2 separate regions of the Homo sapiens genome follow, and region 1 is linked to region 2. Evidence: fine-mapped expression QTL. Tissue or cell type: aorta. Region 2 holds a variant in brackets; the other region holds the start of a gene. All regions are shown on one strand. Distances are between the middles of the regions.

Region 1 (8,109 bases), 100 kb after region 2:
TTGAATTTGAGTAAGCACCAAAAATCAAGGAATACAGCATTTGGATCCAAGGTGTCAAAACTCCCTGCCTGCTCTAGACTACCTTGGTTTATGCCTACTAACCTGGCATAATTATTAGGAGTGCCCACTTCTACTTTAAAAAATGGCACAGTTTGGACAACTGGTTATACATCACTCTATGCAGATAAAAAAGATTTTTCAACATTGTTTGACAAAGAAACATTAAGGCATTCAGAAACATTAGGATGCAAAGAGGTGGTTTGCACAATCTGCTTTTACACTCACCAATTCTGGAAGAGTTAATAAACATGTTAACTTTCACAGCTATAAAGTAATAAAGATTGATCAACATTGAACATTTACGAAATTTCTTCAGACATAAATGTGGAGCTTGGCCTTGCAACCTATATTTGGGAATTTCCATTTCCACCTCTACCCCCAGTCTAGGGATCCATGAGAAAGGCACAGTGATTCAGCATTTCTAAGGCTTTCATTAAAATGTGCTTCAGTGCAATGAAATCAGGAGAGGGAAAAAAAGGTACATAACACAGATATTAAAAACTTCTTTACATAAAAGCAGAAATGAAATTCTATACTTTCTTACTGAAACATTTCTAAAGCAGCAGAACTGGCAAGTGTCTCTCATCACTGTTATTAAGCAAGTCATCCTAAGATACAGCAGAAAGCAGATGGAACACTTTTTATCAACTACTTCAAGAGATGCTTAAAAACAGAAGTAAAAGGGAGGTCACAGAACACAAAGGGTAATTTCAAGGCACCCACCAAACAACAACACTGTCTATACCTGTACGGGAGCACTTTTAGAATCTTGCTTATCTCATTTTCCTGCCTCCTGGAGGATAGATCATGTCTTTTCATCCTTTTAACCTTTATCTCTTATCTTTGAATACTTAGCATACCGCTTGCATATGAGAAAGGTGCAACAAATGTTTATAGAGTTAAACTAATAAGAAAAATGCTTTCAAATACGATTTCTGTAGAAACATTCTTTTCAAAGTACAGTATAAAAGAAACCCAACTATTCCTCTAGGTAAGCGGTGGGTACAGGTTTAACAAACCTTATTATCACGGAAGTCAGGTATATTACAGTCAAACCACGTCCCACCAAAGAAAACAGCCACATAAGGTTAAACTATAAGGCAAGCATTAGTCATAGCCTCAAACATCTGAGTTATTAAAAAGTGCCACTGAAATTTCAAGTCTCTGCTGAGGAGGGCTTGAGCATTCTTTGAAACAGGCTTTGAGGCAGCTGTTTTTCCTTCCTCCAGCATCCTAAGCAAAGGTGCTGGAGTTTGAGAACTAACCACTTAACTCTAAAAGGTCTCATTCATAAGGAAAGCTATAAAAGCCTCAATGCATTTTATCAAAAGGGCCTTGGATTTCTCTTCTTTAAAGACAACACCCATTTCTCCTATCAATAAGACAAATGAGTTAGACATGACCTATTAGTCACCCCATTAAGTTATATAGGAGCTTATGGAGAAAAGGGCTGGCTGAGAACAGAGACACATTTATCTCACGGTGGGTAGCAGCCACTTCAAAATAATGTGAAAGAAAGTTCACCTCTCCAGTAATATTCAAGGTGAAGAAAGCACTTTCTCAGAGACCTAACTTGTAAAAAATAGTAAAAATTAAACATTCAGGTCACCTGAATTTTATATTAGCTGCTTTACAACATAGGAAAATCACCCAAAAGCCTTAAATTTCTAGCTCCCCATTTGTAAAATGGGGATAAATACTGTTACCACTCACCTATATTTTAGAAAACTAATAAAAAACAATGATGTAAACTGCAGATACTTTCTTAAATTCTAGATGTTTAGACAGTTAATTGCTAACTGTTGTTCTCACCTGAACAAGTACAGATCAAAATGAAACATTTAACATACAGACTCTATTTTCTGCTCCCGATAAACAACAGAAGAACCGATAATCCATTGTTTAAATCTGCTCGGGGTTCAAAATAATATTAATTCAAGTAAAGAATAGTAACACAGGGAAAAAGATCCCTTAAACTCTTTGGATATTAAACATTTGTCTTCTACTGATACCTTGGTAAATATCAGTTCCACTTTCTGAACTAACCTGAAAGTAAAGCAACTGCTCATAATCAATGCAGAGTAGGTACTGAAGAATTATGCCAATCAAAATTGGTCTTCATATTATGCAAATAATTTGTGTCTAGTCACCATAATCTTTTTAAATGTCAAATTGTTTACCTATTGAAAATACAACAGAAAATTTTTTTTTCCTCCTACTGATCAATTAAAGAAACAGACTGTTTAAACACTCAATTTCTAAGTGGAAAGACTGATGGAGACACTGCAGCCAAATAGCTTCTTGAAGCAATCTTGCATGTGCAGATTGAAAGCAGTTTTTATATCATGGGAGACAGTTTTATATCAAGGCAGAATACTGCACCCTTACATAAAGCCTCACAGAAACAAGTTAGAATCATAAACACATTCACTTAACTACTGTTCAGTGCCCAATGTACCTGAAAGATACATGGATATCATTTCAGGTATCAGAAAATTCTAGTTCCAGTTTAGTCAGAGAAGAGAAACAACAGTCTTATCCCAGTAGATCCCAAGTTAATTCCTTCCAGTTTCTCCCCTATCATAATATTAATTGCTTTCTTAATAAAATGCTGCAGTAAAATTTGTGAACTCAGATTCTGGCAGAAAATCAAATCAAAGGAAAACTCTTCATGATAGTTACTTTTGCATAGCCAGCCTCCTGCCTACCTTATTATGTTTTTGCTGGTGTCTTGCCTTTGTGTCAAGAACGTGATAAGGGCTTTCCGAGTCTTGGTTGATGTAATATATGAGTCTTGAAGGCAGTGTGATTTCTTTCTGCATTGCATTGCTGTAACTGATATTACTGCTGCTATTCTGTTGCAATGTATTGTCTTCATCTGCCAGGACTCCCAAATTTTTTTCTGCAGTTTCATTCCAATGCGGAGCTGGTGGAGGTAGGGGGGTGGGGGAGCAGAAAATACAAACATACACAAACACACACATATTTACCCCATAAATACATAAGCACTAAAATGCATTTTTCCTTTAATTTCAAACACAAAGTTTTCTATTTATAAGCAGTTAAGAAGTAGAGCTAGAGTAAAGCAAGTTATTTCAACAATAAAATGGCCTGGAGAAGTTAATAAATAGCCAATAAGGCTTATACAACTGTGCACTATTTATTTTGATTTATGTCTTATATATACATTTCTAGTCAGACTCAAATCTATACTTCTAAGTGTTGGGGGGGGGGTAGAATGAACTTGAGGGAAGAAGAGTCATTAAATGAACATGTTCAGGGGTCCTGCCCCCGATCTCCACCCCTTCTCTGAGTCCACAGAAGCACAACTCTACTCTGCCTAGTGGCATCCCATCCAAGAGCTAAGAACGCTCCTAAGATAACTTGAGTACTGAATTTATGGATACCGAATATTAATCGACTCTTTTAACAAAATGGACAATTCCCTTCTCTTTTAACTTTAAGATGAGCAAACATACTTTGCCATGTAGGGATACAGATGCTGGCAGCTTCCCAATTTCTTTTTATTTTCCTGACAAAGCCAGCTTTCTGCTTTCAGTGACTTCCAATCATCAATATATAGAAGATGGTATTATATTAATTGTTCATTATAATGACAAGCACTTTGAGAAATCAGAACCAAAGGTCGTGCATGAAGTATGTCTTCAGCACCTTAATTCTTTGGTCCCCGAAGTGTGCCTCCCCCACCTTAATTCCAACCGCACTGAATGCGCCGGATACGAAATTTGAGGAAACAGCCCATTACCACTATTATCACTACATCCTCCCCGCATTCACATTAAGGTTCCACCACGCAAGTAGCAACTTGCTCCCTCGCTGTATTTCCCATCCACTGGTTGCCCCTCCGCAAGTTGCACAGAGATCGCTGAGGGACCCAGGATCCACTAAACACCTCCCAGTGGAACCAACAAGAATTGGAATGGGTTTTTCGCGAATGCAACAGAAATGGACTTCCAAAAGTGAACTGGGATGAATGGGGGTTTGGGAACGAGAAGGGTGGAAAGACAGGCAGGGAGGGAAGGAAAGGCCGAGCCGGGGACAAGCCCGGAGCACACGGACCCGCGCGCCCTTCGCTTTCCTCTGCAGGGCCCCGCGGGAAAGCCAACGCAAAGGGCACGGGGCCATACCCACCGCTGGGCGCAGCAGCCCCCCAGGCGCGGGGCCGGGACGAGGCGGCGAGCGGAGGCAGCAGGAGAAGGACGAGAAGCAGGCGGCAGGGCGGCGTGCGGGCCGGGGCGCTGGCAGGCACCGAGCCGGCGGGGCCGCGTTGGGGGCCGCAGGAAGCGCCGGCAAGGCTGCAGCCCGCCAGGGGCGGCTGCCGCGAGCTGCTGCCGGGCGGCTTCATGGCTCATAGCTCCCGGGCGCCGCTCCGTGTGGCCGGCGAGAGCGCCGGGCTAGCTGCGGGGCGGCCGCGGGCGGAGCCGGTCACGCCGGCTCGGCGCGCATGGTGCCGCGGCGGGCAGGGGGCTCCGGGCTCGGGGCACGGGGCGCGGGGCTCGGGGCTGGGCGGCGCCCCCTTTCCCGGCTCGCCTAGCCTCGCAGCCACTCCCGGGGCGGGACGCAGAGGAGTCCAGGGGTCCTCGCCGCTCCGCCAACTTGGAGCCTCCCCAGCGGCTACTCCCTCCCCCGGCGGGCGCGGCCGCTTCAGCGACTGCGGGGGCTGCCGCCGGGCCTGAGGATGCTGAGGCGGCGCGCGGGAGCGAGCGGCGCGGGGACGCGCGGGAGCGAGCGGCGCGGGGACGCGCGGAGCGGGCGTGCGCCCCGCCCCCCGAGAGCGCGCCCGAGCGGGGCTTCGGGTGCTGATGCTGTTGCTGGATGCTGTGCTGCTGCTGTTGCCTGGCCCGGAACGCACTGCGCATGCTTTGTTGGGGGGCGGGGAAGGGGGTAAAGCAGCAGAGTGATGCAGCAGCCCAAGCAGCATCGGAGGTGACGGGTGGTACCTCAAAAGATGGGGGCGGTGGAGGGGGAGCCGGCAGTCACGGATAAGCCAGAAGAAAGAGAGTACGGGGGTTTCCAGGCCAGAGACAGGGATGATCGGGAGAAAACAACCAGCCGAAGTCCACCTGCCTTTTCCACCACCCCAGACTTCACATACCCTCTCCTATTCCAACCTCTTCCTGCTCTGGATAAACTAAGGCCACGCATCTCCTTCTTAATCCCTTATATATTTGCTTCCTGCATGTAAATATAAAGGATTGCAGCCGGGGAGGTAAAAATAGCGCGGCTCCTCATTCAGATTGCCAGCAGCGGGTGGGACTGCGGCTGAGAAGAGCGTTTGCGCCGCAGGCTGGCGCGGAGTGGCAGGAATCCCCCGCGCAGGGGCGCTCTGCCCCGGCCTGTGTCCTCCCTGCCGGTGCCTGGGGTCTTTGAGGAAAGCACAAGAAGCCGGACGGTGTTTGCTCAAAAGTTCAGAAAGTATGACTGGGCATATTCGGGAAGGACTTCGACATTCTGGCGGGGAAGCAATACAGAGATTAGAAACCAAGTGTGTGGCAGCTATCTTGGGAAATCCGTTGTTTGTCAACCACGGGGATGGGCACACATTTAGGAGGACACATTTCTATTTTTGAGATCCAGTCCTGACTTCTGCAGAGGAAAGGGGAAGTTTTCTCTCGTTGCTGTAAAAAATGTAAATCCCTGACTTCGGTGGGTTCGCAGCCACTAAATCTGATGGCTTCAGATAAGAGTCTGTGGCATATTTCTGCCCCCAAACTCTCATAATGCAAGCATTCATTTATTCACCCTCCCAATGACAATCTGAGTGATAACAATGTTGTCTTACTCCGACATCCACGGGGTGAGGGCTGGGGTGGAGAATTCCATGATTAAAAGAAAGAATGTGGGTATAAAAGTGCCATGGCCATGACAGAACTCAGTGTTAGCCATCATCTTCTCCACTCACACTTAACAAAGAGAAAAGAAGAAGACATATACGCGCGCGCACACACACATTACAAAACTGTTAGGTAAATACTGAGATAACTTCCTTTCTATGTTGAGCTAGGATATTATTATCACATATTTATTCCTGTAAATTTGTAATTGTTGCTACCTCCCCCATGTGAGGGCAACAACAGTTTTCCCTTCTGCACACCATTGTGTCCCTAGGACCTCACACAGTGTCTGAGGCACAGAGAAATCGCTTGGAAAATATGTACTAAATGAATAAAGAAATGGGTGATACACACAAGCAGAAGTCACACTTGGGGCAGGCTAGTGAACACTCTAGCCCCACCGGAGTGCCCACTGCAGGTCAATGTTCTTAGGGTTGTCTCCCTCAAGTCAAGTATTCTCTGGCTAGGTTTTCCAAATTTATATTTGACACAATATGCATCCTGAAAAAGGGCCTGAGAGAAAGCAAGCCAGAAAGGAGATGTACAAGCAATGAGAAGGGAGAGGGAAATGAAAGGTGCAAAGCACCCAGATGCAAGTTACTTGAAAGGCATCTCTTGCAATTCAGTGACAACCTCTTAAAGTCTGTTCTGATAAATAAACCTATCAGCCAACCTGGACTGACCAAACCCACCCACCAGTTACAACACATCATTTCATGCACTTGGGGTATGGAATGAGGATTCAATATAGTTTCTTTTTTTCTTTTTTTTTTTTTTTTTTTGAGATGGTGTCTTGCTGTGTCACCCAGGCTGGAATGCAGTAGTGCGATCTCAGCTCACTGCAACCTCTGCCTCCCAGGTTCAAGCGATTCTCCTGCCTCAGCCTCCCAAGTAGCTGGGATTAGCTGGGATTACAGGCACGTGCCACTACACCCGGCTAATTTTTGTAGTTTTAGTAGAGACGGGGTTTCACCATGTTGGCCAGGCTGTTCTCAAACTCCTGACCTCAGGTGATCCACCCACCTCAGCTTCCCAAAGTGCTGGGATTACAGGCGTGATCCACCGCACCTGGCCTCAATATAGTTTCTAATAAGGGGTTGGGGTATTTACAAAGAGGGATGTTGTCTTATGTACTATAGTCAAAAGACTGCATTTATTTACAGAACTTTAATGGTTACAGACATTGCTAGAGTCAAAATAAGATATCAATAAATGAAATAATGAGTCAGAGAAAGAGTACATTACTTAGAAAAAATTTACTGGAAGTTTAGTCTTTAAGCCATATATTTAAGGGAAGGTTAAAAACAGAATCAAATATTAACTGATTAAATAATTTAATTGGTCAACTTGGTAGAGTTAGTAATATTCTTATTAGGTAGTTCAGAATTTTTATTTTTATAGAGTTTACTTCTAAATATTCCCCTCTGTGCTTTCATAAGATTTAGTGACTTGCTTAATCACTTGCCACCTACTGCTTTGCTCTGTATTCGTGTATGTGCATATCATCATTCTTCCATCAAAAAATACTGAGAGCAAGGCTGTATCTTGGTCATCTCTGACTCCACAGCCTAGTATAGTACCTGGAATCAAATCAGCATTCATAGAGGGGCACTCACAGGTAGGAAACAGAGGGATTCAGCAAGATGGACTGGAATAAAGAAATATACCAGAAGCTTGAGTGCTATAATGGCCCTGGTTACCAATGTGTGTTGGATCCTAAGGCCATCAGAGGATCACTGGAGTGATCTAGTCACAGTGGCAGACATGGAGAAATGCTGCAGTCGTAGGTGAAGGCAGGTGGCCAGAAGGTCCATGGGAAGGAAATTACACCAGGCAATATGGACCCTAGGTAAGCACCATGAGGGGTGCATGTGAGCAATACCCAGGAAGGGTCGTCATACTGTTCACAAAAATGGTCCATTGGTCTGGTGAGGGAGGAGATCAGAAGGTCTCTATTTGCCAAAATCTGTTTCCAGTGGTAGAACTGGACCCACTTTGCAACCAGTGAGAAGACTGGGTCTGGACAGGAGCAAGCAAAGGACAGAAATAGAAATATTAGATGTAGCAGGCCTTGGCCTCAAGAGGGCTGAGATGCTAGGGGAGAAAGTAGAAGAAGGGGATGACAGAAGAGAGGTCCAGAGGGTAAAATAAGTAAAAAAGCAGGGGAAGGTAGCAAAGCAGACTTACAAGAGCA
Region 2 (8,109 bases):
TAATAACAATAATAATAATAATACTAACAACAATAATAAAATGAATTATTAAAATTTACCCTTAAAAGATTTGATAGCCTAAATAAGGAACTCTATCACAGAACATGTGACATGGTGTGTAGAAATTTTCTACATATAAAATAATATTTTAAGAAGTATGCTATTTTATTATTCATAAGAATAAGGTTATTTAAATGTTTACCATTGAGAAGGGTTAAAAAATAAATTCAAAAAATATGCTGTTTTAACAATTACCAAAAAACTATAACTGTTTAATTGTAATTAACACTTAGTAGTAACTGTTTCCTATTTTGCACAGTTACTGAGATTTGCTCTTTTGATTGATAGCTTCATGTACTTTCCTGATATATTATGGTAGAACAAGAGATTTGGAATTGCAAGTAAAGGTTTGAGAACAGATTCTATAGATTAACAGCTATTTGAGAATGCACTTTGTGCATTCAAAGACATTGAATATATCTTAATTATTATTTCTACTACTCTAAAAGTATTTATATAATGGATGTTGAAAAAAGCTTAGGCTTCAAAAGCCATAATTTCACAACATGCCACAATGCTCAAGATTGAGAATCAGCTGGGAAAAAAAATCTCAATGTTCCAATCAACAAAAATAATTCAGATAAAAAAACTATCTTGGGGTTTCAAGCAAATTAAAGTCCTTCAGAAACTCATATTTTAGCCTTTACTGTCTAAAATGACTGCCTACACATCTGGCTTTCCTTTCCACCAAAAAGGACCTCTCTTAAATTATATGTGTTCTGATAAATTTTGCTTCTTACTAACATCTCAAGCAATATATTTAAAGGCAACTGGAACAGAAAATAAATGTGTATACAAAAGTAAGAGGTATTCTATTGATATTCAACACAATTAAACTGATAGTTAATGGAAAACATCCATTAAAGTAGAAACTTAAAAGTTTAAATATAAATTAAGTCACTATTTTTTTAAATTTCTAGTTTCAAGGCATTCTCTGAGTAGGGCCAGCTAATTAGAATTTCACATCATTTTAGCATGAAGCACAACCTTATCATACCATGTACTAATCTAATTTTGGTTTCCTTAAAGTAAAACAAAGACTTAAAGATAATTCCAAAGCAATTTCAATTTTTGTTCCAATCTTTCATAAGTTTGTCACCAATACCTGATTTCTATGCATTTTTTAAAAGATTCTCATCTATATAAAGTCTTTTCAGAAGTGCAACTTTGTTTTGATAAAACAAGTACTTTTTGCCTTAGAGTTTACAACTTTTAAAGTTCAATCACATAACTACAACAGAGATTACAATTGGCCTAAACAGTCTGGGGAGTGTGGCAGTGGTTGCTGGAGCCAGCTCCCATCAGATCCCGAGAGCCAACTAGATACATCCTCTCCTAACTCCTCATCAGTGATCTCACTTTGATAGCTTGAAATCAGCTATGGTGGCAATATTTACACCACAGATATCAGCAAACATTATAAATCAAGAGAGCTAGGTATTAAAATTTACCAGCACACCACTAGTATTGGGTGTACTAGTATATAGCCTACTGACCAAGACTCTTCTGGGCTTCAGGCAAGTAATTTTATAAAGGAAACGGTTAAGTATAGTTAACGGAGTTTCTATTGTATCTTCAAGAGGGGAAAATGAGGAACAATGAATGTTTTTCATATATCTTTTAAGTGTTACTGAAATGACATATTCAATCACATTTTACTGCCACAGAAGTTAACACGAGATTATTCATCTTTCCAATATTTAAAGACGATAAGTCGCCGGGCGCGGTGGCTCACGCCTGTAATCCCAGCACTTTGGGAGGCCGAGGCAGGCGGATCACGAGGTCAGGAGATCGAGACCATCCTCGCTAAGGCGGTGAAACCCCGTCTCTACTAAAAATACAAAAAATTAGCCGGGCGTAGTGGCGGGCGCCTGTAGTCCCAGCTACTCGGGAGGCTGAGGCAGGAGAATAGCGTGAACCCGGGAGGCGGAGCTTGCAGTGAGCCGAGATCGCGCCACTGTACTCCAGGCTGGGCGACAGAGCGAGACTCCGTCTCACAAAAAAAAAAAAAAAAAAGACGATAAGTCATCAAAGATATTCACTTTAGATAAACCTTTATTTTATATGTTTGCCTCCTACAATTGTATCTACCATAAGCATAATTAACTAGTAAGAAAAAATAACATATTAGCAGGACAAAAGCACGGAATAAAATTAGAAAGCAGTGACCAAATACATAGATGAAGAAAAGTAGAGAATAAGAATTTTAAATGAAGACAAAAGATGCCAGATAGCTAAATCTATTAATTATAATTATTAAATGTAAGGAAAGTTTAGAGTTGTGAAAATTCTATAAAACTCAGAGTCTCCAAACACCGACAAATAAATCAAGTCACTTAATATGTCTGAATATCTTGGGGTTAATAAGTAAAAAATAATGATTAACTATAAAGTAAAATGTATTCTTTCTTAAGTAAGCTATCTGTTCTAAAACCCACTGACTCTATATTCTTACCGTTTTGTGATCATTAACAATCATAAGTTCCAAATATTTCATTTCTTCAAATATACCACGTGATGGCTACGGAAAATAAAAATATATGGTCAGAATAGTGATTGACATAAAATCTCTCTAGTGCTCACTGTTAAGTTGTAGATAAGACTTTGAATTTCAGAACAACTCTCTGCTGCCTACTTTATAAACACCTTAGAAGAAAGTTGGTCAGGCAAATTTTAAAAAGTGATCATAAAATATGGGTACATATTCAAGTATTTAGAAAATAACTGTATTTTATTATCATTAAGGTACTTACTTATCAACATAGAAAACAGTCCATGTTGTTGTATATGGTTTTTATATGTAAAAATATTCTAGAGAAAAATTATAGCATAATTATGTTAAAATAAATAAATCTCAATTTCACATTAAAATGTGATAAAATATTCATATTTACTTAAAACGTCAATGAAAATCTATGTAAAACTCATTTAATAAGAATAGCATAAGTTATAATTACTTCCAGATATATCTGATACAGATATCAATGTAGTTAAATAGAAACATTAACTCACTCGAGTGAAATTCTAAAAATAATATGCTAATTCTTAACTGCTCAATTTCTCAAAGGAAAAAATATTGGCAATTATTACAGTCTAAAGTCTTCTAAATTAACTAGATAATTCTTTAAGAGTAAGTATTTTAGCCTTCATTTGGACTTTTATTTCTTTTTCATAGTTGGAAAATTATAATAGTGGCTCTTTTTTCTTTATGTACATAGTCATTGATCACTTTATATTTGATGAGGTGGACTGTAGGGAAAGAACAGCAGCCATTGTAAAACATATTATTACCAACCACATCTTTATGAATGAGCTAAAAGAGATCTAATAATAATTTATATAATATATAATAAATGTATCCATAATTATCATAAGAGTTTCATAAAAGGGAGGAAAATTTAAACTGGAACTAAGTTTTTGATGGCTGGTGGTCTATTTTTTTCACAAAAAAAATACACTCAGCAAAACATTATCTAAAATGTGCAATTTCTACTATAGTTACTCATTAAGTTATCTAGTAAATTACCATGTAATGTATAAGCTGTGGAATTAATTCTCAGTTACATAGCATTCACCATGTAATTACTAAACAGTCCCCATCATTACAGCTTTCTAGCCTATTATGAAAAGACCAGAAACATAATTTCAATTACAAAGCCCCTATACGTTTATCAATACATGTGAAGTATATAACAGTAGTTGATTATACAATTA[C/T]ATGATTTTTATTTAGAAACTGTTATATTGCTAATAGTCAAATAAATTCATTGTGTTCTGAAAAACACATACAGCTTTAAAGTTTGGTGTAACAGAGTTTTTAATCTGAAAGTAATATAAATATGTATGATTAGCCAACATTTCAAAACCTAACTCCTCTCTCTAGATTTTTTATTAACAGAAATGTTTTATATGACACTATATAAGCCATATAGAAAGAAAAGTCTGCTGTACTTTAAATAGAAAATAAAACGCACTGCAATTATCATCAGAAAACACGTAGAAAACAGAGCTAAAACAACACGTTCTTTAGATGACGTCAGGGTTCAGAGACTACCGTAATCAGTTTGAATCACTAACAGAAAGAGATCAATAAAAAGCAGTGTGTTAAGGCTCAAATCATAGGGTTTTTTGTTTATTGTTTTCATTTTTAAACAACAGTCCCCAAAATCTGAACTGTTTTAGGTACACTTAGATAATGTGGGGTGATAGGCACATGACTTCATTGAGTAAAATAGGCCCACCCAAGGCTCAATGCCACACTCACATTCACTGCTCTCTTCCTTCTTTTCAACCACTGTAATTCAGAGAGAAAGGGCCACTGGTCACCTCTTTCCATAGCTGCAGAAAGGAAAAATTAGTATCAAAATTTTATGCTTATTTCAATGGGAGTATGTTTTAAAATATTACATGAAGAAACAGTGGCACTGATAATATATGTCAAACTAAGGTGAAAAAAAGCACACTGATCATTATATATTTCACACTCTCATGACCACAAAGATAGTTCAAATGTAATTTTGTCCCAAACATCAAGAAAACATAATGTTCAAGATTCATTAGAAGATGCATATTTGATATAAAACCACTTGACAATATCTGAAAATTTGACAGAGTTCTACTATGTCTAATTCATTTTAGCATTCAAAATAATGTATGGCATTAGCTTTTGCATAAATTATTAAAGACTTTTAGCAGTAATATACAGAAATAAAATCACATGCCCCAACAATCAAAAAGAAGCTTCTTCCAACATTAGCACACTTAAGATGTGTCTGGAGCAGAGCATGAGAGGGAGGCAATCCAAGCTGGCTCAAGAGCAGCAAACTGCCAGGAAGATTTCAGGATGAACCTCACTGTAAATCACTGTACTAAATTTGACCACACTTTCTGGTTCCCAAGGCAGCTTTACTCAAAGTCTTCATGTTTTAGTCTGCACTGGAAATGACTCTCCATGCCTCTTTACACAAGAGCCACCACTCATTCCAGTGCTGATCCACGATGTTCACCCCTGATATCAGACCAATTCCACTTCCAACAAGCCTGCATATCTACTGAGCTCCACCAGATAAAAGCTCATACTACATAAAATATAATCGCTATTTTTAGTTAAAACTTACTGAGATTCTTCATTTGCTTAGAATACTGTCCTGCCAAGGTTTTCTGGATTATATGTGGTCGACCTGTGCTTTTCTGAAACAAAACAATTGTAGGCAATTTAGAAAGCAAGATGTGAACAAGCCTCTATGAAACAGTGTTGGAACTTTCTCTAATGTCCTTCCTAAAATGGGAATATTTATATGTCAGTTTTTTAGCTATCAAAAGTGAAAAGTATGTCTTATTGAAATCTTAATTTTAAATAAAAGAGTATCATCTAATTGCCCCAGTTTAGATAAAAACATAGTGTTACTGGTTACTCTTAAATCTTAGCTTTCTTTAAAGCTATAAATGGGAAATTCACAAGAAACACAAAAAGTCAATAAACATGTAAAAACATGCCGAATGCTTTCATATTCCTTCAACATGCATTTTTTTTAATGAAGCACCAACTTTTGCCATAAAACTGATGAAGTTTTAAAAATTACGATATCCATAGTTAATTACCATTGTAAGGCCAAAAGCACTCTCACACCTTGCTGGCAAGAGGAAATTGGTAGCATAGTTTGAGAGAGAAATTTAGTAAGGTATATCAACAAACGTGAAAACATTTACATTTTTTGCCCTAGAAATTATGCTTTTAGGAATGTCTATTACCATTATTCTTATTCCTATTAGCTTCCATTACTGAGTGCATAGTATGTATCAGGTACTGTTAATGTACACATTATTTAATTTAGTCCTGACAAAGACGCCATATAGTGCATGGTTTATCCCTATTTTACAAATAAAGATATTGAGGCTCAGGGAGATACATCATTGTCTTAAAATTATCTTATAAAATAATGATCCAATCTATTTTTAAAAATATATGGGACTATATCATTGAAAACTGGAAGAACATATTCTGAAACATGACAAGAAGTTATCTTTGGGGGACAGGATAATGGAAAATTACTATTTAAGTATTTGTTTTGCTTTTCCAAATTTCCTATATTAGTTTTATAATCAGAAAAAGTTATAAAAAAGAAACTTCTTAATAGGTTACATAAAACTTATAACAGTTTTGCTATTCATTTATTACTTGAGAGATAACATGAATTCTCATTAGAAATATCCCATGCGTATTACTTGACTTATCGCAAAGCATACTAAAATCAATAATATCTAACAACAAACATCAAAATATCTAAAATTAATTACAGTAAGCTCTAAATTCTGGTAAAAGGTGAAAAGATAGTAATGAAATTAACAATGGGATCAGCAACACAATTTAAAAAATCGACTAAAGTTTAAAGCACTATTCCTTTCCTCTACCCATAGTGTGGATGAGGACAAATCATTACATAACCAAAAGGTAGGCAACAGGAAGGAAGGCAAAGAGAAGGCAATTTGCATGTAACAATCAGGCCCTGAATAATATGATCACAAGTAAACAATGCAAAACCAATGCTTTAAACATTATAACAATAGTTTATATTTATAAATCCTTATGACAGTTTAATAGACATTGTCACCTACATTTATTAATTCATCAAATCTACAAAATTGCCCTACTATGAATGCATTAAAAATTATCTCATTTTATACATTTAAAAAACTCTAAGGCTTAAATAGTTATTATTTGGGAATCTGTGTTTTGTTCTTTGTGGATTTTGTTAGGGTACCAGGGCCATTAATCAAAGCCAGAAATCAAAGTCAGAGTTTTTGCTGAATGAGTCGAATAATTTTGCTGTACACAGATTATCTTTCCTTACTGGAGTGAGATAAATAACATTTTACTTAATCAAAATGTCTTTATCTAAGTGGGCTGTCTTCATTACCTGATAATTTTTATAGTTACTAGTTGAAAATGACAGAGGTTTATTCAAACACCAACCCTTTAAAACTTTTCTGCATCAACTTTGAAATTTACCCCATATTCATACATACATCGCCATAACCAAGACAATAAAAGTTTGTCTGTTCAGCTTTTATTATCAGTAGCCTATCTAACTGTTAGCTGTTTCAAAATTAATTAATTAATTAATTTATTTATTGAGATGGAGTCTCGCTCTGTCGCCCAGGCTGGAGTGCAAAGGTGCAATCTTGGCTCGCTGTAACCTCTGCCTCCCAGGTTCAAGCGATTCTTCTGCCTCAGCCTCCCCACTAGCTGGGATTACAGGCTCCCGTCACCACGCCCAGCTAATTTTTGTATTTTTAGTGGAGACAGGGTTTCACCATATTGGCTGGGCTGGTCTCAAACTCCTGACCTCGTGATCTGCGCACCTCAGCCTCCCAAAGTGCTAGGATTATAGGCGTGAGCTACCACGCCCAGCCCAATTTTATCTAAATTTGAAATCCCTAAAGATAAAAAATGTTTTCTGTTCCCCATCAAATAACTGCAATAATCTAACTCTATCACTCACAAAATATTATTTTCCCGCTACAGTTCTTTTCACTGATCTGACTTCTGTACTGTTACCTCTCAGTGCCTTAATCTCCTCCCATTCTTCCCCTTGTTCACTCCTCTCCAACCCTGTCAGGTTCCTCAAAGCTCCTCGAACACCCTAGGCACACTCCTGCCTCAAGGCCTTTGTATTTGCTCATCTTCTAGAATGTTCTTCCAGCTCTCTAATTTCCTTAAGTGCTTCATTCACCACTTGTCTTCTCTTGGTGGACTTCCCGGAACTGTGTATGTATAAAAAATTTAACTCCATCCTGGCTAACACGGTGAAATCCCGTCTCTACTAAAAATACAAAAAATTAGCTGGGTGCGGTGGCGGGCACCTGTAGTCCCAGCTACTTGGGAGGCTGAGGCAGGAGAATGGCGTGAACCCAGCAGGCGGAGCTTGCAGTGAGCCAAGATAGTGCCACTGCACTCCAGCCTAGGCGAAAGAGCGAGACTATCTCAAAAAAAAAAAAAAAAAAATTTAACTCTCCACTCTCCTGGCTTCACTTTTTCTCCTTACCATGTAT

Evidence for each region. PIP is the estimated chance that this variant, and not a neighbour inherited with it, causes the effect.
Region 1: it holds the start of ADAM23, and the variant in region 2 is fine-mapped to the expression of ADAM23 in aorta (GTEx, PIP above 0.99).

What each region holds. Positions count from the first base shown.
Region 1 is chr2:206,440,184-206,448,292 of GRCh38, reverse strand. ADAM23 (ADAM metallopeptidase domain 23) reads right to left here and starts at 4,761. Exons shown (of 26, transcript NM_003812.4): 1 at 4,213-4,761; 2 at 2,769-2,986. The coding sequence starts at 4,426. RefSeq lists a silencer at 4,187-4,316.
Region 2 is chr2:206,544,567-206,552,675 of GRCh38, reverse strand. It overlaps ADAM23 (ADAM metallopeptidase domain 23), which reads right to left. Exons shown (of 26, transcript NM_003812.4): 7 at 5,175-5,247; 8 at 4,322-4,395; 9 at 2,516-2,581. Among named protein-coding and RNA genes, the nearest start is that of FAM237A, 94 kb to the left of the region's middle. The variant C/T (reference allele first, on the strand shown) is at 3,775.